Homo sapiens: one gene and its partners. The protein of the gene in region 2 purifies or fractionates together with the protein of the main gene of each other region. This does not show direct contact. Each region holds a gene or a part of one and is shown on either strand. Other genes may lie near its edges.

Region 1 (8,128 bases), on a different chromosome or scaffold from region 2:
AAAATTAAAGTAAATTAATTAATGTTTTACTAATTAAATGTTTTTCTCCAGTTTAAGGGGGTTGAAAAATAGCAATAATTTTAAGAAACCATTTACTGTTTTGTATATATATATATAAAATAACACATATCTGGATTATGTTTCTAATGTGAATTTTTGGCATTTGAAAGAAAGTAGGTATCCCTATTAGGCTAATAGGCAGTGAAGTATCTTGATCTCTTAATCCTCTGTATTGCTCAAATATTAGCATTATCCATACTCATTTATTAATGTAGGGGTTACTTAGTGAAACCCTGAACTAAAATAAGGCAGAGGTGTAGTATTAGAAGAAAGACTCATAGAAGGCAAGGTAGGATGTTAGGCACGCTAAATGGAAAATATGTGTTATAATTTTTATTTCATAAGTGAACTTGATAATAGAAAATGCATTTTTTTATAAATAAAAAGTAGGTGTCTGAATAAAAATACCTCTACTTGGGTAGAGGTATTTAAAATTCTATAATTTTGTTCTGCTATGGCTAATTCTTACAGAACCCTCTTTCTGGTTCCACTGTATATTATTTTAATGACACTTCTGCAGTGGGTATTAAGAATACAGCTTCACATTTATTCATCATTGTCCATTCACTCATTAGTTCATGCAACCACAAAAAGGTATTATAAGAATAATATTTCATTTCTGAGGTAAGGAAATTATCATCTAGTATGTTTTTATATAACCTACTATTCACAATGACATGTAGAATTCTCTCTGTTATTCAACATATGTTCTTGTTCTTCAAAATCTGCAATATCTGTAGTCTGATTCTTGGAGACTGGCTCACCGCAATTGTCTAGCAGAGCTTTAGACCAGGAAGTGCCACACAGCAAGTAGTTTCCATCACAGTCTTAGCTAGTTTATTCCTGAATCCTCCCATATCTTACAGAAAGAGCAATGAGTCTTTTGTAAACCACTCCCAGGAGGGTGATGGTGAGCACTATTATTCCACACACCAGGCTGAATGCCCATCGTGGTCCCCAGTGAGCATACACTTGGCTGATGAACATAGGCCCAAGAATCCGGGCTCCACTTCCAGATGCTGTTAACCAGCCCATGTATACACCCTGTTGGGGGTGAAATGGAGGACAAGCAGATTGATATTGGGGTTTAGTTATTTAAAAGCAAAGAAATGGTATTACCAAACTACAGCAAACTTACAAGAATCATTTCTGCATCTTTTACTTTTAAATTAAACATAAAATGCCTCCTATAAATATAGCATTTAATATTAAGTCAGATTAAAAAAAATAAAAGGAGTGTAAAGGGAAAAACTTACTGTCTGCTGAAGCCCTGGGAATAATAAAATTGATTAAAATACCTTTTAAAGCTAACATTTATTTTGTACCTGCTACATGCCAGTCACTGAGGTAGGTGCTTTAAATACATCATTTGTAATGTTCACAAGTTTCGATGACAGGTGTTATGCCTGTTTAACAAAGGTAGAAGCTGAAACTCAGAAAGTTTAAGTAACTTGTTCAAGAGGTTTGAAGCCATATTTGGCTGACTCCACTGTGCCACTTTACACTCTACCACAATGCCACTCCTACAACTTCTGTATCCAAAACTATAACCCACATAACCTACCCAAGAATGAACTTTATAGAAGTTGTGGGATTTTTAAAAATTTTAAATGCTGAATATGATAAAAATCCCTCAAATCAGTCTGTGTAAAAATAGAGAATGGCAGCAAAAAATGTTGAGTGCTTACAAGTATATTTTCTATAATTGCAATGTCAGGGTACCTGGCTTACCTGAGGTTTTGGTCCTAGAATTTTTGAATATAGAGTATAGGACATAAGATTGCAGACTGGATAGCCTAATCCTATTAGCACAGCTGATGTAAGGAACTGGGCCAGATGAATCACCGGGGTGTAGAGGCACCAGGCTTGTTCAATCGAGCAACCAGTTGGTCTTTCATTGTCATCTTCCATTGGAGACTTCCAAAGACCAATAATAATTTCCCCAAATGTGGTATTAGGGATTGAATTATTGTGCAAATCTGTAAAAACAAAACCATTGCAGTGCATTACTTGTTGATTTTAGATAAATAACAGAGGTTAACATTATAGAATTATGTATGGCTATACCTTCCCACTGTATTTTGGGAAATTGATTTCCCCAAGGTAACAAGATAAAGAAGCCAACCCATACAACGATGAGTCCTCCCAGTAGAATAGCACGCTCGCCAATCCTGTTAAAGAACAGAAACTCTGTAATTTTAAAATGAAACATTATAACATAGCTTCATTACTTTCATAATTTTAAAAACTAAAAATAATATCTTGTACTTTTAGTGATATATCCATTAAAAAGAATGCTAAATATAATTTTCCACTAAAAATAACCAGGACTCCTCTGAAAAATGGCTGACTTAAGGTCTGGGACACAAAAAGTAGATGAGCTCAGATCTTTCACAGCAAAAAGCACAGAAGTTATCAGTGACTACTAGGTCATGAGTCTTTTTGACTCAGCCAATTTGAAGAAGCTGGCCAAAAATGTGACAATGTGAGTACCAAAACAGAATAATAATGGCAATGGATTGAAACACACAAAAAGTATTATCATCTGTGGCCTGGTGTAGTGGCTCACACCTATAACCCCAGTACTTTGGGAGGCCAAAGCGGGAGGACTGCTTGATGCCAGAAGTTCAAAACCAGCCTGGGCAACATAGCAAGACCCCATCTCTACAAAAAATTTTAAAAATTAGCCAGGAGTGGTATTTGGTGCCTGTAGTTCTAGCTACTTAGGAGGTTGAGGCAGGAGGATTACTTGAGCCCAGGAGGTCAAGGCTGCAATGAGCTGTGATGGCACCACTGCACTCCAAACTGGGTGACAGAGCAAGACCCTGTCGCCAAAAAAAAAAAAAGTGTTATAATCTATGAATTCATAGTATATTAAAATAAAGTACTCTTTGGTCAGTTTTTGAGGATGTTAGGGAAACAAAAGAAAATAATCAAGCCTTTATCCTGCCTTTCCTATACAACTATAGCTCAGGTTAACCAAATAGTTGGTGAGGGAAAGATTCTCTTCATGGTAAGTATTCTAGCAAATAAATAAAGGAATGATAGAATTAAAATACCAGAATTTTGTAATGATTCATTAATGAATTAATGGATCTATGGAATAATCAGTGGCTACTTACATGTTAAGAAGAGATAAACAAAACATTATATTTCTTCTGATATAAGCACATATTCCCACCTATAAAGTATTCTTGCCAAAAAATTGAACCCAAATTTCATCAAGCTTCTAGATGCAAGTACTAGTTTTTAAGAAATACAGCAATCATGTCATCTGCAAACAGAGGCAATTTGACTTTCTCATTTCCTAATTGAATACCCTTTATTTCTTTCTCTTGCCTGATTGCCCTGGCCAGAACTTCCAACACTATGTTGAACAGGAGAGGTGAGAGAGGGTATCCTTGTCTTGTGCCGGTTTTCAAAGGGAATGCTTCCAGTTTTTGCCCATTCAGTATGATACTGGCTGTGGGTTTGTCATAAATAGCGCTTATTATTTTGAGATACGTTCCATCAATATCAGTTTATTGAGTGTTGTTAGCATGAAGGAGTGTTGAATTTTATCAAAGGCCTTTTCTGCATATATTGAGATAATCATGTGGTTTTTGTCATTGGTTCTGTTTATGAGATGGATTACATTTATTGATTTGTGTATGTTGAACCAGCCTTGCATCTCAGGGATGAAGCAGATTTGATCGTGGTGGATAAGCTTTTTGATGTGCTGCTGAATTCAGTTTTCCAGTATTTTATTTTTTATTTTTATTTATTATTATTATTATTATTATTATTATTATTATTATTATTATTTGAGACAGAGTCTTGCTCTGTCGCCCAGGCTGGTATGCAGTGGCGTGAACTTGGCTCACTGCAAACTCCGCCTCCCGGGTTCATGCCATTCTCCTGCCTCAGTCTCCTGAGTAGCTGGGACTACAGGTGCCTGCCACCACGCCTGGCTAATTTTTTTTGTATTTTTAGTAGAGATGGGGTTTCACTGTGTTGGCCAGGATGGTCTCGACCTCTGACCTCGTGATCCACCCACTTCAGCCTCCCAAAGTGCTGAGATTACAGGCGTGAGCCACCGCACCTGGCCTGGGTTTGCCAGTATTTTATTGAGGATTTTCGCATCGATGTTCATCAGGGATATTGGCCTTAAATTTTTTTTGTTGTGTCTCTGCCAGGTTTTGGTATCAGGATGATTCTGGCCTCATAAAATGAGTTAGGGAGGAGTCCCTCTTCTTCTACGGTTTGGCATAGTTACAGAAGGAATGGAGTTTCAGAAGGAATGGAAACTTTGTACCTCCAGTAGAATTCGGCTGTGAATCTATCTGGTCCTGGGCTTTTTTTGGTTGGTAGGCTATTAATTACTGCCTCAATCTCAGAACTTATTATTGGTCAATTCAGGGATTCGACTTCTTCCTGGTTTAGTCTTGGGAGGGTGTATGTGTCCAGGAATTTATCCGTGTCTTCTAGATTTTCTATTTTATTTGCATAGAGGTGTTTATAGTATTAGAGAATACTGTGGTATTCTCTGACGGTAGTTTGTATTTCTGTGGGACCAGTGGTGCCCAAAATCTCCTTAAGCGACAAGCAACTTCAGCAAAGTCTCAGGATAAAAAATCAATGTGCAAAAATCACAAGCATTCCTATACACCAATAACAGACAAACAGAGAGCCAAATCAAGAGTGAACTGCCATTCACAATTGCTGCAAAGAGAATAAAATATCTAGGAATACAACTTACAAGGGATGTGAAGGACCTCTTCAAGGAGAACTACAAACCACTGCTAAAGGACATAAGAGAGGACACAAACAAATGGAAAAACATTCCATGCTCATGGACAGTAAGAATCAATATTGTGAAAATGGCCATACTGTCCAAAGTAACTTATGGATTCAATGCTATCCCCATCAAGCTACCATTGACTTTCTTCACAGAATTAGAAAAAAACTACTTTAAATTTCATACGGAACCAAAACAGAGCCCATATAGCCAAGACAATCCTAAGCAAAAAGAACAAAGCTGAAGACATCACAATACCTGACTTCAAACTACACTACAAGGCTACAGTAACCAAAACAGCATGATTCTTGTACCAAAACAGATATATAGACCAATGGAACAGAATAGAGGCCTCAGAAATAACACCACACATCTACAACCATCTGATCTTTGACAAACCTGACAAAAACAAGCAATAGGGAAAGGATTCCCTATTTAATAAATGGTGTTGGGAAAACTGGCTAGCCATACGCAGAAAACTGAGACTGGGCCCCTTCTTTATACCTTATACAAAAATTAATTCAAGAAAGATCAAAGACTTAAACATAGGACCTAAAACCATAAAAACCCTAGAAGAAAACCTAGGCATTACCATTCAGGACATAGGCATGGGCAAGGACTTCATGTCTAAAACACCAAAAGCAATGGCAACAAAAACCAAAATTGATAAATGGGATCTAATTAAACTAAAGAGCTTCTGCACAGCAAAATAAACTATCATCAGAGTGAACAAGCAACCTACAGAATGGGAGAAAATTTTTGCAATCTATCCATCTGATAAAGGTCTAATATCCAGAATCTACAAGGAACTTAAACAAATTTACAAGAAAAAAACAACCCCATCAAAAAGTGGGCAAAGGATATGAACAGATGCTTCTCAAAAGAAGACATTTATGCAACCAACAAACATATGAAAAAAAGCTCATCATCACTGGTCATTAGAGAAATGCATATCAAAATCACAATGAGATACCATCTCACACCAGTTAGAGTGGCAATCATTAAAAAGTCGGGGAACAACAGATGCTGGAGAGGATGTGGAGAAATAGGAACACCTTTACACTGTTGGTGGGAGTGTAAATTAGTTCAACCATTGTGGAAGACAGTGTGGCAATTCCCCAAGGATCTAGAACCAGAAATACCATTTGACCCAGCAATCCCATTACTGGGTATATACCCAAAGGATTATAAATCATTCTACTATGAAGACACATGCACATGTATGTTTATTACAGCACTATTCACAATAGTAAAGACTTGGAACCAACCCAAATGCCCATCAATGACAGACTGGATAAAGAAAATGTAGCACATATACACCATGGAAAACTATGCAGCCATAAAAAAGGATGAGTTCATGTCTTTTACAGTAACATGGATGAAGCTGGAAACCATCATTCTCAGCAAACACAGGAACAGAAAAACAAACGCCACATGTTCTCACTCATAAGTGGGAGTTGAACAAAGAGAATACATGGACACAGGGAGGGGAACATCACACACAGGGGCCTATTGCGGGGTGGGGGGCTAGAGGAGGGATAGCATTAGGAGAAATACCTAATGTAGATGATGGGTTGATGGGTGCAGCAAACCACCATAGTACATTTATACCTATGTAACAAACCTGCACATATATTCCAGAACTCAAAGTATAATAAAGGCTGGGTGTGGTGGCTCACGCCTGTAATCCCAGTACTTTGGGAGGCTGAGGAGGACGGATCATCTGAGGTCAGGAGATCGAGACCATCCAGGCCATTGCATGGCTCTTTGCTGACTTCACTAAGGTCTCAGCTTAAATGTAACTTCCTCATATATACCTTCCTTGAGCAGTGTATCAAATACAACATTTCCCCACTTCCCAGCCCTGCCCTTGTCACTCCTTATTCTTTTCTCTTCTATTCTTCTTTGTAGTACTTACCACTATCTGACTTCACATTTGTGTTTATTGGCTTTCCCCCTACTGGAATACACGTGCTTTGAGGGGATGGTATTGGACATTCTATAAGAATGTGTATCAGCAGCACTGCTCTACTTCTGTAGCAAGATGTAATGTACTTCCTATTAACTTTGAATATAAATATATGTCTATCTTATATCTTGATCCCTCTACTTGGCTCCATAAGGACAAGAATTCTCATAGTACCCCCATAGCACTGAACCTGATACACTGACTTAACATTTGTTGATTAATTTTAGAACCTTATTAAAGTACATACAGTCTCTGACTTATGAGTGTCCAACTTAGAACTGTTCAGCTTTACAACAGTAGGAAAGTGATACTCATTCAGTAGAAACCACACTTCAAATTTTGAATTTTGATATTTTTCCAGACTAGTGATCTGTGGTATGATACTGTTTCATGATGCTGGACAGCAGCAGAGAGCCACAGCTCCTAATCAGCCACATGATCACAAAGGTAAACATCCAGTACTATAATCTACAGTATACTGTATTTGGCAAATTACATGAGATATCCAACACTTTATTATAAAATACGCTTTGTGTTAGATGATTTAGCCAAACTGAAAACTAATGTGAGTGTTGGAGTGTGTTTAAAGTAGGCTAAGCTAAGCTACAATGCTCCGTAGGTTAGGTGTATTAAATGTTTTTTTTTTTTTGTTTTTCGCTTTTTTTGAGATGGAATTTCACTCTTGTCATCCAGGCTGGAATGCAATGGCTCATTGCAACCTCCACCTCCTGGGTTCAAGCGATTCTTGTGCCTCCACCTGTGGAGCAGCTGTGATTACAGGCACTGGCCACCACACCCAGCTAATTTTTGTGTATTTAGTTACGACGGGGTTTCACCACGTTGGCCGGGCTGGTCTCGAACTTCTGACCTCAGGTGATCTGCCCGCCTTGGCCTCCCAAAGTGCTGGGATTGCAGGCGTGAGCCACTGCACCCAGCCTGTATTTTCAACTTAGTGCTATTTTCAACTTATGATGATCAGTTTATCAGGATGTAGCCCCATTGCAAGTTAAAGAGTATCTGTATTTGAGGAATACTTAAATAGAACTGTCTAAATTCATCAACTAATGTTCCACCATAGACTATATGACTGAACTTAATTTTACACAAGCATTTCCCTAAAAATATGTTCCTTACAGTTGTACTTTTACAAAATGATTCTTTTTTTAAGAGATGGGTCTTGCTCTGTCACCCAGACTGGAGTGTAGTGGTACAATCACAGCTCACTGCAGCCTCAAACTCCTGGGTTCAAGCAATCCTCTCGCCTCAACCTCCCAAGTAGCTGGGACTACAGGCGTGCTCCATCATACCCAGCTAATTGTGTT
Region 2 (5,125 bases):
ATTCACAAACCCTGAGCTAGACACAGGGTGCTGATTGGTGTGTTTACAAACCTTGAGCTAGATACAGAGTGCCAATTGGTGCATTTACAATCCCTTAGCTAGACATAAAGGTTCTTCAAGTCCCCACCAGACTCAGGAGCCCCGCTGGCTTCACCCCATGGATCCTGCACTGGGGCCGCAGGTGGAGCTGCCTGCCAGTCCCGCGCCCTGCGCCCGCACTCCTCAGCCCTTGGGTGGTCGATGGCACTGAGCGCGCCCTGGAGCAGGGGGCGGCGCTGGTCGGGGAGGCTCGGGCCGCACAGGAGCCCACGGAGCGGGGGTCGGGGAGGCTCAGGCATGGCGGGCTGCGGGTCCCAAGCCCTGCCCCGCGGGAAGGCAGCTAAGGCGTGGCGAGAAATTGAGCACAGCAGCTGCTGGCTCAGGTGCTAAGCCCATCACTGCCCGCGGCCGGTGGGGCAGGCCGGCCACTCCGAGTGCGGGGTCCGCCGAGTCCACGCCCACCCGGAAATCGCGCTGGCCCGCAAGCGCCGCTCCCTCCACACCTCCCTGCAAGCTGAGGGAGCCGGCTCCGGCCTTGGCCAGCCCGGAAAGGGGCTCCCACAGTGCAGCGGCGGGATGAAGGGCTCCTCAAGTGCCGCCAAAGTGGGAGCCCAGGCAGAGGAGGCGCCGAGAGCGAGCGAGGGCTGTGAGGACTGCCAGCACGCTGTCACCTCTCACTGGGAGCCAGGCGGACCCTCCAGCCACAGCCCGGCCGACCCCTTTCCCACCAGTGCCAGCCACTAAGCCTGTCTGCTCCAAGCCCCTTTCCCGTTTCCCTGACCAATGTCCCTCGGGATTAGGGACCAAGGAGCAGCTGTCTAGGATGCGCGCCTTGCGTCTTCCATGCCCTCCCCTCTCCCTCCTCTTTGCATGCTGTTTCTCAGTTCCCAATAACCAGGCCACACAGAGATTCAAGCATTTGTTTCTTCTTTCCTACGCCATTGAAGAGGCTGACGATTATAATAATTACAATGAATTACAGAAGGAGGTGGGATCTCAGTCCTCCAGGGTCAGGGACTCTTAAACTACCTCCTTTCTCTCTTTGCTCAGCTCTTCCCCATACCCCTGTCTCAGTGTTTCTTCCTTTCCTCAAAATCCTCAACAGAGAAGCCAGAGCTGGGCAGGTGTGGGGTATGGGTTAGCCAGAGGTGTGCTGGGGTCAGGCCACCTCGCCGGTGGCATTCCGCCTTTTCTCACACACCCAGCGGTACACCTGCAGGCAGAAGTCATCGTTCCAGCGGCCATCCGGCTGGACTTCAACACAGTCTTCACTTCCACCCAGCTCGTGCCCGTGCCAATTATCTGGCTGAGTGACAGCCCAGTTCCTAAGGAGGCAAGAGAAAACTCGGACTCTGCCACGGTGGTGAGAAAGCGACTTACCCATCCTCCTCCTCTTCATGACCATTTTCCTTGAAGGCCGAGAGTGGAGCTGGGGTGTGCCCTGCTACCCAGTCTGGGGAGAACCCAACCGCAGAGAAAGATGTTTCCTATGCCCAGTCCCAGCAACCCTCACCCCCAGCCCAGAAGAGCACAGCTTTGGAGGGGTTGGAGTCTGGGGAGGAGAGGATTGGGGAATTTGGTCCCTGAGGGACGAGTCAGGGTAGCTTGGAGTGAAAGGCCAGGGGGCTGTCCCCAGAGAAATCTAACAAGGAGATGAGGGAAGAGGCCACTTACTTGTAGTTGTGCCTATAGTCTGTGCCATCCACCCATTTCCAAGAGCCATCACTGTCCGTGAGACCTATCCAGGTATTGAAGGGGTTCGTGTGTTGTACAATGAATTTCTGGAAACACAGGCAAACAGGAAATTTCTAGTCTCTTGTGCCTTTCTCCTCCCTCCATGCAGGCATGGAACTGTGGCCCCTCTCAGCCTTCCCCAGCCTGATCTGCCCTCAGGCTGAAGCACCAGCTCCCGACAAGACTGCTTCCTAGCTTTTTCTTCCGTCACTCTAGCTACTGTTCAGTGCACATTTGCTAGGCTAGACTTCGTGCTGTCTGTGCAAAGATGATCTCATTTAATCCTCAGAAGCTCTCTAAGATGGGCACTGCAGTGACCACATTTTGCAGGGAGTTGCAGAGCCAGAGAGCCAATCCTGTACCTGAGTTAGTGGCCACTGTCCCCTGTTCACAGCCCTGGGCCGGTGTCCCCCTTCATTCCCAGCTTATGGCTCTACCCAAGTTCCGGTTCTCTCCCTGTCTTCTGCCCACAGCCTCGAACTCCTGGGATCCCGACCCTGGTCCCTGCTCTTACTGCCCCCCAGACCCCAGACCCACTGAAGATCTCAGTTTCACTGGCCTCTCAAGTACATTGGCCCCTGGTAGCTCTCGCTTCTATGTGTAGCTGTCATTTCCTGAGATCTGTCAGGCCCGGGAGCTTCTAAGCTTGGACCCACTGCCCAGGGCCCCATTATGATCTAGCTACGTGGAGTCTGACAATCGGGGCAAAATAGGAAGACACCGGGGTGTGAGGAAGCAGCCCGGACAGCCAGTTGCCAGGGGCTTGGGTGAAAGTGGACTTCGAGCCTGCAGATAGCTCCCCGGGACCCACGCGCACCCACACTCCCAGCACGGTAGCCCCTCCAAGTGGCTTTCTCTTACACATACAGCTGTTCCTGGGGACCTAGGTCCCGTGGTTCGGTAGGGTAGGAGGGGAAGGTGTGGTCACCTGGTTTTGTGGAGAAAGTGGAGAGGGATGGATCCGTTGAGCAACGTGCACACTTAACAATTCCCTTTGACAGCCTGGAATTTTCCTTCCAACAGTATTTGAAGGACAATTGCCTAATTCTACTCTCACTCTCTAGAAAAACAACTAAGGTTGCAGTTATTCACCTCTTCCGATTGAGCATCAGAAACTGGGGCATCCCTAAATTCTGGAATCCCACAAATAGGACAAAGTCCCATGCATGAAGGGGCAGCCCTCAGAGGCAGGTGAGGCTGCTCCCCAAATTCAGAGGAGTCAACGGAGTTGGAGAGAAAGTGCCTGGAGACAACACACACTATGTGCTGCTACCTGCTGCCAGCCCTCCCTCCCATCACCACGAGAAACAGAACAACTGAGCAGACTACAAATTAGCAGTATCCAGCCCGCCGTGTTAAAGACTGAGAGGAGGAATCAAATCATGCCAGATGATCAGAGAAGACAGTCCGGGAGAATTCATTCCCCCTTTCCTGGGTGAACCATAGGAAAGAAAGCACTGTGCCCATTCACAAAAGTAATGGAGAAAATCATCATGGAACTTATGCCCCCAAAAAGAAAGAGGAAGATGAGGCAGATGAAAAATGAACTGTGATATCAAAAAGAGAGGTGAAAAATAGACTTTGAAAAGAAGCCTTGTTTCGGAATATGAGGGGATGTTGGAGAACAGTTTCTTTTTTATTATTATTATACTTTAAGTTTTAGGGTACATGTGCACAACGTGCAGGTTTGTTACATATGTATACATGTGCCATGTTGGTGTGCTGCACCCATTAACTCGTCATTTAACATTAGGTATATCTCCTAATGCTCTCCCTCCCCGCTCCCAAGAACAGTTTCTTTACATGCTTCAAAAATTTTAAAAAGAATGACATAAAACATGAAAGAAGATATAAAAAAAAAAGAGAACATGATAAGGAAAGGAAATGAAAAGTTTGAGCTACATACTAAAAAAAAAAGCCCAGGTGTGGTGGCTCACGCCTGTAATCCCAGCACTATGGGAGGCCAAGGCAGGTGAATCACCTGAGATCGGGAATTGGAGACCAGCCTGACCAACACGGAGAAACCTCATCTCCACTAAAAATACAAAATTAGCCAGGCGTGTTGGCGCATGCCTGTAATCCCAGCTACTTGGGAGGCTGAGGCAGGAGAATCGCTTGAACCTGGGAGGCGGAGGTTGTAGTGAGCCAAGATCGTGCCATTGCACTCCAGCCTGGTCAAAAAGAGCAAAACTCTGTCTTAAAAAAAAAAAAAAAAAAAAAAGCCAGGCGTAGTGGCTCATGCCTGTAATCCTAGCACTTTGGGAAGGCCAGGCGGGAGGATCACCTGAGGTCAGGAGTTCAAGACCAGCCTGGCCAACATGGTGAAACCTTGTCTCTACTAAAAATATAAATATTAGCCAGGCATGGTGGCAGGCACCTGTAATCCTAGCTACTCGGGAGACTGAGGCAGGAGAATTGCTTGAACCGGGAGGCAGAGCTTGCAATGAGTCGAGATCGTGTCACTGCACTCCAGCCTGGGCGAAAGAGCAAGTCTCCATTTCAAAAAATAAAAATAAACAAAAAATTTCAGATAAAACACTTGAGGGGCCGGGCGTGGTGGCTCACACCTGTAATCCCAGCACTTCAGGAGGCCAAGGCGGGCGGATCACGAGGTCAGGAGTTCAAGACCAGCCTGACCAACATGGTGAAACCCTGTCTCTACTAAAAAATATAAAAGTTAGCCAGGCACGATGGCGGGTGCCTGTAATCTCAGCTACTCGGGATACTAAGACAGGAGAATTGCTTGAACCTGGGAGGCAGAGGTTGCAGTGAGCCAAGATCGCGCCATTGCACTCCAGCCTGGGCGACAGAGCAAGACTCCATCTCAAAAAAAAAAAAAATTTTTTTTTTTTTTCAGATACAACACTTAAGGAACCTAGGAAAGGAAAGACTCAGACACATGGGAATAAGAGGTATCCTGGTCTCCTCACCTTTCCTATGGAAGTTATACAAACTTTTAGTTTTCAAAGCCAATAATTTTCAGCCTATTATTTAAAGTTATACAAGTAATCACTGGAATAACTCTAAATAAACTACATAGTTTCCAAAATACCATAAAGAAGAAAACAAAAAGAACACCTCTCACATAGCAATTGTAAGAAAATTAAGAAGCATGTAAAGCAGAAAAAAGAAAGGACTAGGGTTAAACATATCTATTAGAATGTAAATGAGACACTCACCTATTAAAAGAAAAGGTACTTATTAGATTTTTAAACATCAAAAACAAAACCTGCCAGGTGCAGTTTTTGGATTACAGTGGCTCAGACACCTGTAATCCCAATATTTTGGGAGGCCCAGGCGGGCGAATCGCTTGAGGCCAGGGGTTCAAGACCAGCCTGGGCAACATGGCACA
Region 3 (8,128 bases), on a different chromosome or scaffold from region 2:
GGTGAAGACCACACACGTGCACACACACACACGTACAACAGGAAAAGGTCTCATGGCCGCTGTTTAATGGGCCATGGGCAGGGCACAGCTATGGGCATGGGATACACTGCCCTTCTAGACTATGCCTGTTTCTCTGTGGCTTCTTGTACTTGTGACTCTTAATCTCCCTAATAATTACCAGAGAGAAGATCAAGCAATTAGGGACTAGATTTCTCTCTTTAAAGTATCATTATAAACTCCTACATTTAACCATATCTGATGTGTTGCAATGCACTGAAGTTAGACTTTTTTTTTTTTTTTTTTTTTTTGAGACAGAGTTTTGCTCTTGTTGCCCAGGCTGGAGTGCAATGGCACGATCTCGGCTCACTGCAACCTCTGCCTCCCAGGTTCAAGCAATTCCCCTGCCTCAGCCTCCCAAGTAGCTGGGATTACAGGCATGCACCACCACGCCCGGCTAATTTTTTGTATTTTTTTTTTAGTAGAGATGGGGTTTCTCCATGTTGGTCAGGCTGGTCTCGAACTCCCAACCTCAGGTGATCCACCTGCCGTGGCCTCCCAAAGTGCTGGCATTACAGGCGTGAGCCACCGCGCCTGGCCTGAAGTTAGATTCTTATTGATGCTCAACTCACCTGTCTTTGTCAAGTAGGAGCCTATTCAGTTTGGCTCCTGCGTCTCTTTACATAAACCCAGAAGTTTTTTATAACTTCCTTGCTTTTCTGGGAAGTTCCAACTTATAGATTTCCTACCTCAAACCCTGCATCAGCCATTTCTCAAGGAAGCTGCAGTTCCTTTTAGGGGGAATTGGTATTTAGAGACCACAAATCTGAGTGCTAGGGGTGCTCATTGCTACTAGGTTGGTTACTGACTGGGGCCTGGATTTCTGGTCATTTATAAGGAGAGCATCCACAGCTGCTTGGACTGCTAGAATCTTTAGCAGATTCCCAGGTAGTGAAAAACTGGATTCATCTTCTGTTGGAAAAATGTTAACTGTCAGAGCTCAGTTTAAACCATGGGACAGGATAAAAGGCCAGGGCAATGCTCCTCATGCAATGCAGGGCATTAAAGCCTGGAACGGCTGGGAAACATCCTAACTTTCTCAGCAGTTTTCAACAACCTACTATACAACAAGTAAGAGGATGGCAACAAGAAAGACCTCAAAAGAAAGAAACAACTTGCATTTAGGGATACCCTATGGGCAGAGAACACAGACTTACTAACTTGGGTATTCTCACTAAAGACCTAGGGCAAAAAACTTAGACTAAACAAAAAATTATTCTCCCCTGCCATTTCTGACAGTTGGGGACTTTCCATTAAAAAGTACGTCAGGAGGTTAACCCAGAAACCTGTAAGCTCAAAGGAAAATGTGTAGTCATATAATGAGATTATATAGCAAAGATCTCCAGCCTATGCCTCCTATCCCCCTGCCGAGACTAAATTTTTCCCACAGGTCTGGCCTGCTCGGTACTTAGAACCTAATTGCCAAAACTAATCTCTCTGCATGACAGAAAGCAGATCAATGGTTGCCTGGAATCCAAGAAGGGGAGGAATACTGCAAAGGGGGATAATAAGGCTTTTGGCAGGTGATGGAAACATTCATATCTTAATTGTGATGGTGACTACATAGGTGTAAATATTTGTCAAAACTCTTCAAACTGTATTCTTCTGTTGTATGGAAAGCACACCTCAGTAAAGTTGATTTTAAAAAAATCAGATGCCAGAGTTTTAAAGATCAGCAGATTGCATTTTAAAAATCCAGATTATCCAGGCTGGGCTCAGTGGCTCATGCCTGTAATCCCAGCACTTTCGGAGGCCAAGGCGGGCGGATCACAAGGTCGAGATGGAGACCATCCTGGCCAACATGGTGAAACCCCGTTTCTACTAAAAATACAAAAATTAGCTGGGCGTGGTGGCGCGCCTGTAGTCCCAGCTACTTGGGAGGCTGAGGCAGGAGAATCGCTTGAATACAGGAGGTGGAGGTTGCAGTGAGCTGACATGGCGCCACTGCACCCCAGCCTGGCGACAGAGCGAGACTCCATATATATATATAAAAAAAAATCCAGAATTCCAACTGCTCTTGAAAAACTGGAAGATTTAGCCTCACTGAGCTGACATTTCCTTTTAGCTACAATGGCTGGAGCTCACTAGCTGTCGGCTTTTTCAGATGGGTATCTGCCTTTCTATTTTGCCACAAGAAACTTCTATTCCAAACTAGCTTTATCCAGAACAAATTATATTAATCAAAAGAAACAGAAGTTCAGTTCCTTTTCTCTTCCCAAAAGATGTTATGATTGGGGTTCAAGCAAAGAGAGTAAGTGTATAAACGAGAAGCTACGAATCAGGCATAAGTAGAAAAAGAAACAAGAGGAGATGGAAAAGTAAAAGAACCAGGTGCTGTTAATGTCACATAAGTCAAGAAGGCAAGAGTTTCAGGGTAATGGGTTAAATGAGCTGAGGAGGACAAAGGGTGAGAACGAGAATAGAGTACTGAATATGGCAAGGAAACAGAATGACCTTTCATGAGAATGGTGTTAGTGTACTAGCAAGATAGAGCACAGGTCTGAGTCAGCATGTTAAGGAGGTGGACAGCTAGGAAACAAAAGGATCTGTACACACAACACATTCAAAAGTCTCAGCAAAAGGAGAGTCTGGGGTCAGAAGAGGGACGGCAAAGTCAAGGAAAAGCTTTGTTAAGGAAGGGGAACGGGGAACATTAGTGGTTGGAAGGAGAGGAGCCTGACAGCAGAAATCAGAAAGCAAGGAACTCACGATACAGGCTAGAAGAGCCAGCTTAATGAAGGGACAAACACTGCTTTCTATTAGCACCAACCATCTTCTAGTGACAACTGTACTAGGAAAGCCTGGCGTGGGTTTTTAAGGAATGTGGATATAAGAATGCAGAAGGAGAAGCAGTCTTGAGGCACCTCCTTCCAGAGCACCGCTCCTCTGGCTCTCCCCTGTGAGAGGCCTCAATGAAGTGTGGGTATTGAGAAGAGGCCTCAGTCAGGGCAAACCAAGAGTGCGCGTGGCAGTACCTGAGAGATCCCCAGTGATGGAGGAGGTGCCGAAGTAGTAGCCGCGGGGCAGGCGGACTCCGGGCACTTCAATGCAGTCCCTCCACTCATGCTTGCCATCAATATCCATCATTATCTAGAATAAAAAGAGAGATAAATCAGGGTCAGGCCATGGGAGCAAGAGCGACACAGCCCACACCACCATCTGGTCCAGGACAAGGACTCTCACCGTCAAATGCCTCTTGACGTAGCGAATCACCAGGAAGGTGTCGTAATGAAGATTGCGGACAATGGCTGTGCAGCCTCCCAGCTCTGTAGGCCGCCCATCCCGCTCATGATCATAGCTGAGGGAGCCGTTGTTCACCATGGCTGAGATGTAGGGGAATACCCGCTGGAAAGCAGAGAGGGGGAAGCAGACACTAAGGAAGAGCACATAGGAACGCCTGTACAAACAGCAACAGGAATTCAGCACATACAAGTTGAGCCCCTTACAGCAGAATAGGCAGCCACTCGACCTCATTGTCAGCAGCCCCTGAGAGCCCACATTCAGATGGTCTCTCAAGGGAAATGGGCCCAGGAAGCGACTACACTTGGTATTTGCCTTCAGTAATTCTCTTGGCTCCTGAACTGGGGTGGGCCTGAAGTGGTCCTCCTAAGACGCTGGAGTCTGACTTGAATGCCCCAAGGTCACCATTTGGCACTTATGTGCCGCCTAATACCAGGGGTTTCCTTTTCGTGTATATGTACCTATCTCCCCAACTGCCACATAAGCTTCTTGAAGAAAAAATTCATTCATCACGTCTTCATATGTCTAAACTTCAGCCCCATCTCCTCCCAACCATGGTTCTGCACACAGCGGGTATTCTGAAAATACCTGTTTGAGCAGGGGAATCTTTCCATTCAGGATAGCTCTTTTCAATTCTAAAATTCTATAAGCATATAAGGCTAAATGGATTAGAACTCAGAACATGGAACGGGGTTGCTGGATGGGCTCAGCCAGCCACAATGACTGTCCTTAGTCAAAAGACTTTCCAGCCCACTTAAGCCTCCTCCACACGTAACTTCTCCGAATAATAATAAGAGGGCAAGGTTCTCCCTTAACAGGGAGAAAATTGCAAGTTTTCCCATAAGCCACTCATTTTCCCATCTATTTCAGGGGCCCTCTCTCCCCAGTAGAGTTGTAGGAGCAATTCTTCCTTAGAAATGGCGAACTAATCATTCCAGAACAAGCCCAATGCCAAGGCAGTGCAAAAAGGCAGGGTAGTGAGGTGGTGAAGGGGTAACATGAGGCATGCCACTCCTTTGGGGAGTATTTGTCCCTTTGTCCCAAATGGTTAACATGCAAGATGGAGATGCAGTCGAGACCAGAGACCGGGGACTCCTGAGACAACCACATGGACTTGAAACAGCAACAAATGTTGGATGGACACATGGGAATGAGGGATGCTCATGATGAGCCAAGAACTGAGTACCTGGACTCCTGGAGAATATCGCCTCTTCTGGGCCTGAGAGGGTCCAGCAGGTTATGATAAAAACAAGAGAGGGCACAGAAGACAGGAGACCAAGTCAGAAAGACACAGCCACAGAAGAGCTATGACCCAGCTGTGATGGATGAACAAACCAACTTAAATCCCCAAACAGAATTTTAGGGTCCCTGAAGGGCATCCGTGAAGTCTTTGCACCCTCAAGATGATAGGCAAAACCATATGCACGGGTGCTTGTACATTTTTCTGAGGAGAGGGTCTGTTACTATATCAGATTCTCAAAGGGGTCCCCTAGGAAGACCGCTCTAACCCATAGAGGGTCCTGAAGCTTTTGGAAGGCACTTTATAAAACACATAGCAGTACGCTGTCCAGGCACGCCGCACTTATGTCTCTGGGAGTCAGTCTCAAGTTTGTCTGTACCCAGCCTACTGTATTTCTATAGCAAGGGGAAAGAGGAGACAACAGGGCTAAATTCTTCCAAATTCAAGACATCCTTTACTATCCAGGATCTCAGGAAACAGCTCCTGCCCAGAAGACCAAAATCTTGCCACTTGAGAGACTATGAAACTAACTCTAATCCAAAGGGATCACTTACCCTCTAACTGAGCCTTATGGTCATATATTCCCAAATAACTATTGTCATTCTAACCTACCACACATAGGCAAGGAAGAAGCTCCATGGAGGCATTGCAGAATGACAGATTTAGAAAATCATCAGGCGTGAGGGTATTAAGCTCTGCTCCAGCAAACAGCTGCAGTTCTAAGCCATTAGCGACAAGAGGTACCTACACAAGCTCAGCTCAGCTCTGCCCTGTGGGACAGGTAGGCGAGGGTACAGAACTCAAACCCTTCACTCCTTTAATACGGTGAACACCTACTACAAGCCAGGTACTGTTCCAGATGCTGAGGGTCCAAAGAGAAACAAGACAGACAGGAATGGAATTAAGATCAGAGTGGAAGAAACAAACAACAAAGAAGCAAATAAAATTATTTCAGATAGTGAAAAATGCTATAAGGAAAATAAAATAGGTAATACAAGGGATGGGCAAGGGAACCTCTCCCTGAGGAGGCAATATCTGAGCTGAGACTCAAGTAATTAGAGGGAGTCCACCAAAAGATCTGAGGGCACAAGAAGCATGAGGGTGGCACATTCAAGGAACTGGAAACAGATCAGTCAGAATCACAGCTTGTGAGAAGAGGCTGCCATGAGGCAAGGCAGCACCCACGGCACTGGGCTCCATGGGCCACAGCCAGGAGTCCGAGGCTGCAGTGCAGATCCCCTGCCGTCCTCCTCTTAACACCACTGGCAGAATTCATACAGGACACAGAAAGGCATGACATCAATCCGTGGATGATTAAACTGGCATGAAGTTAATCTTCAACAACTACCATTTAGAACAAGGAAATGGTGAGCATGTTATCAAGCAGTTTACAGAAACTGGCATCTGAGAGTATGCTCATAATTTCAGTGACAATTAAGAAAAAGGGATTAAAAATGCCCTGTGGAGCTCTGATGAGCCCAAGGCTTCCTTCACTCATCACCTCTAGTAACCCTGATTAGAAGTTTAAGTTGCAACTTTAAAGAGATAGCAATCTCCTATGTTAGCTTGCTTAGAAAATAAACAAATAATAAAGAGACAGCAATCCTTAGCCTAAGGGTGCCTTACTCTTCCCAAGGCTGGTGTGGACCCAGTTCCAGGTAACAGCCAGAGGCATGCTGGACCTTGGGAGCACCTGAAGGAGCTTGTTAACTGCACGTATACATGGGTCCCTCAGTCAAAGAGTCTCATTCGTATGGCTAGAGTGGGGTGCAGGATTGTTTTTTGTTTGTTTTTTTGAGATGGAGTCTCACTCTGTCACCCAGGCTGGAGTGCAGTGGCGAAATCTTGGCTCACTGCAACCTCCACCTCCTGGGTTCAAGCAATTCTCCTGCCTCAGCCTTATGAGTAGGTGGGATTACAGGCGCTCGCCACCATGCCCAGCTAATTTTTGTATTTTTAGTAGAGATGGGGTTTCACCATGTTGGTCAGGCTGGTCTCGAACTCCTGATCTCGTGATCTGCCCGTCTTGGCCTCCCAAAGTGCTGGGATTACAGGCGTGAGCCACCGCACCCAGCCAGGATTATGTATTTTTAAAAAGCACCACAGAAGGCTGTGATGTGCAGCCAAATTGAAGAAACGCTGCACCAGACAGGGAGCCTCACAGCTTTGCAACTACAGAGAATCTGTCTACTTCGGCAACACGAGTTGGCCTTCAACTTTTAACCTCACATTAGTGTAAGTCACTAAATGCCATCTTATTTTCTACGCCTAGTCAAGAGTTCCTGGAAGTATTTCTTGGATAACCACTAATTTCACACAGGAGCAATTTTGTTTTTCCCCTAGAAAGCACTCTGTAAGTTAGAACCAAAGATTGAAGAATCACACTGGTTCAGGCAAGGTGGTAGTTTTATTCCTAATTTAAGAGTCACCAGAAAGGAGAAACTCTCACCTGTTTTATCATCCAAAGGACTGTTGTTTAAAGGGTGGAGAAATGTTTTCAACTTTTTGTACTACAAGACTACTTTTAAAAAAGTGTTTTTTGAAGACCTCTACGGGATAACTGTATCTTCAGCATATTTCGATGGAAAAGACACCCATTAGCTTGTGGATTTATGGATTCTAGGCTAAAATTCCAAATGGCCTCTGTAATTAGGGAGACCTGAGTTCTAACTGCAGTTATGTCACTTATAGCTGTGTAACCCTTCGGTGGATTACATCACCTCTTTGAGATTCTATTTCCTCACTGTAAACAGAACAATACAAAGCTCACAGGGTTCATTATGAAGATGAAATGAGATATGCGAAGCATTTAGTACAATGTCTTGGTGTTCAGGAGGGAGTCAATAAACATTCAATCAGTGACTAGTGTATTTCTAGATACAAATATCGTTCACAGGTACTCATATATATATAAACACAAAGCCAAACATACATCTTCTAAAGCACGAATTCCCAGACCACTGGCTGTGATCAACCATTAATATTTCCAAAAATATTTTGGAGAGTATTAGATTTGGCTTCTTTTTATTGCCTACTAAAAATATTAAAATACAATAATGACAGAACAATCATCTATAATAAACATCATTTTACAAAGGGACACTTTAACACCAAAAGATGAGAGAGAACAATGTAATTTCATAATGAAACAACTGAATACATTTAGCACTTAAGAAAAAGAACTTCATTATTATGATTCTTGCACCAGTGAAAACTCTGTTACCACACAACTGGAGTTCATACACTGGCATCTAGGAGCCACTCTTTTAGAGCAGTGTTTCCATCTCAAACCATACCATTGTCTAGTAAGCTGACCATTTGCTTTTGGGAACCCAGATGTGAAGAAGTGAAGGAGGGGAGAGGAAGAGAGAACAGAACTAAGATGTTTGCAAAATGTCCCTTAGGAATCCACTGAATGGTGTGAATAATAGCTGGTGTTTATTGAGCACTTAGTCTGTGCCAGGCACTGAACTCAGTAATGAGCCCTTCTGCATTTAATTCTCACAATCCTATGAGGTAGTATCAGTACTCCTCATTTCACAGGTAAAAAACTTGTCCAGGATAACACAGGCATTAAGTAGTGAAATCAGG

Evidence for each region.
Region 1: the proteins of ASGR2 (region 2) and MFSD8 purify together in Homo sapiens (affinity purification with mass spectrometry; 3 studies listed by BioGRID and IntAct, with this or other methods). This does not show direct contact.
Region 3: the proteins of ASGR2 (region 2) and LMAN2L purify together in Homo sapiens (affinity purification with mass spectrometry; 4 studies listed by BioGRID and IntAct, with this or other methods). This does not show direct contact.

The regions. Positions count from the first base shown.
Region 1 is NC_000004.12:127,919,733-127,927,860, forward strand, and holds part of MFSD8 (major facilitator superfamily domain-containing protein 8), read right to left. Parts: intron 2,232-8,128; coding exon 2,128-2,231; intron 2,040-2,127; coding exon 1,792-2,039; coding exon of another isoform or gene 1,783-1,791; exon of another isoform or gene 1,105-1,782; coding exon 898-1,104; 3' UTR 1-897. UniProt on the Homo sapiens protein: Outward-rectifying chloride channel involved in endolysosomal chloride homeostasis, membrane fusion and function. Conducts chloride currents up to hundreds of picoamperes.
Region 2 is NC_000017.11:7,100,377-7,105,501, forward strand, and holds the end of ASGR2 (asialoglycoprotein receptor 2), read right to left. Parts: intron 1,821-5,125; coding exon 1,714-1,820; intron 1,365-1,713; coding exon 1,199-1,364; 3' UTR 950-1,198; downstream 1-949. UniProt on the Homo sapiens protein: Mediates the endocytosis of plasma glycoproteins to which the terminal sialic acid residue on their complex carbohydrate moieties has been removed. The receptor recognizes terminal galactose and N-acetylgalactosamine units.
Region 3 is NC_000002.12:96,708,624-96,716,751, forward strand, and holds part of LMAN2L (VIP36-like protein isoform 2 precursor), read right to left. Parts: intron 4,517-8,128; coding exon of another isoform or gene 4,484-4,516; intron 3,403-4,483; coding exon 3,241-3,402; intron 3,148-3,240; coding exon 3,033-3,147; intron 1-3,032. UniProt on the Homo sapiens protein: May be involved in the regulation of export from the endoplasmic reticulum of a subset of glycoproteins. May function as a regulator of ERGIC-53.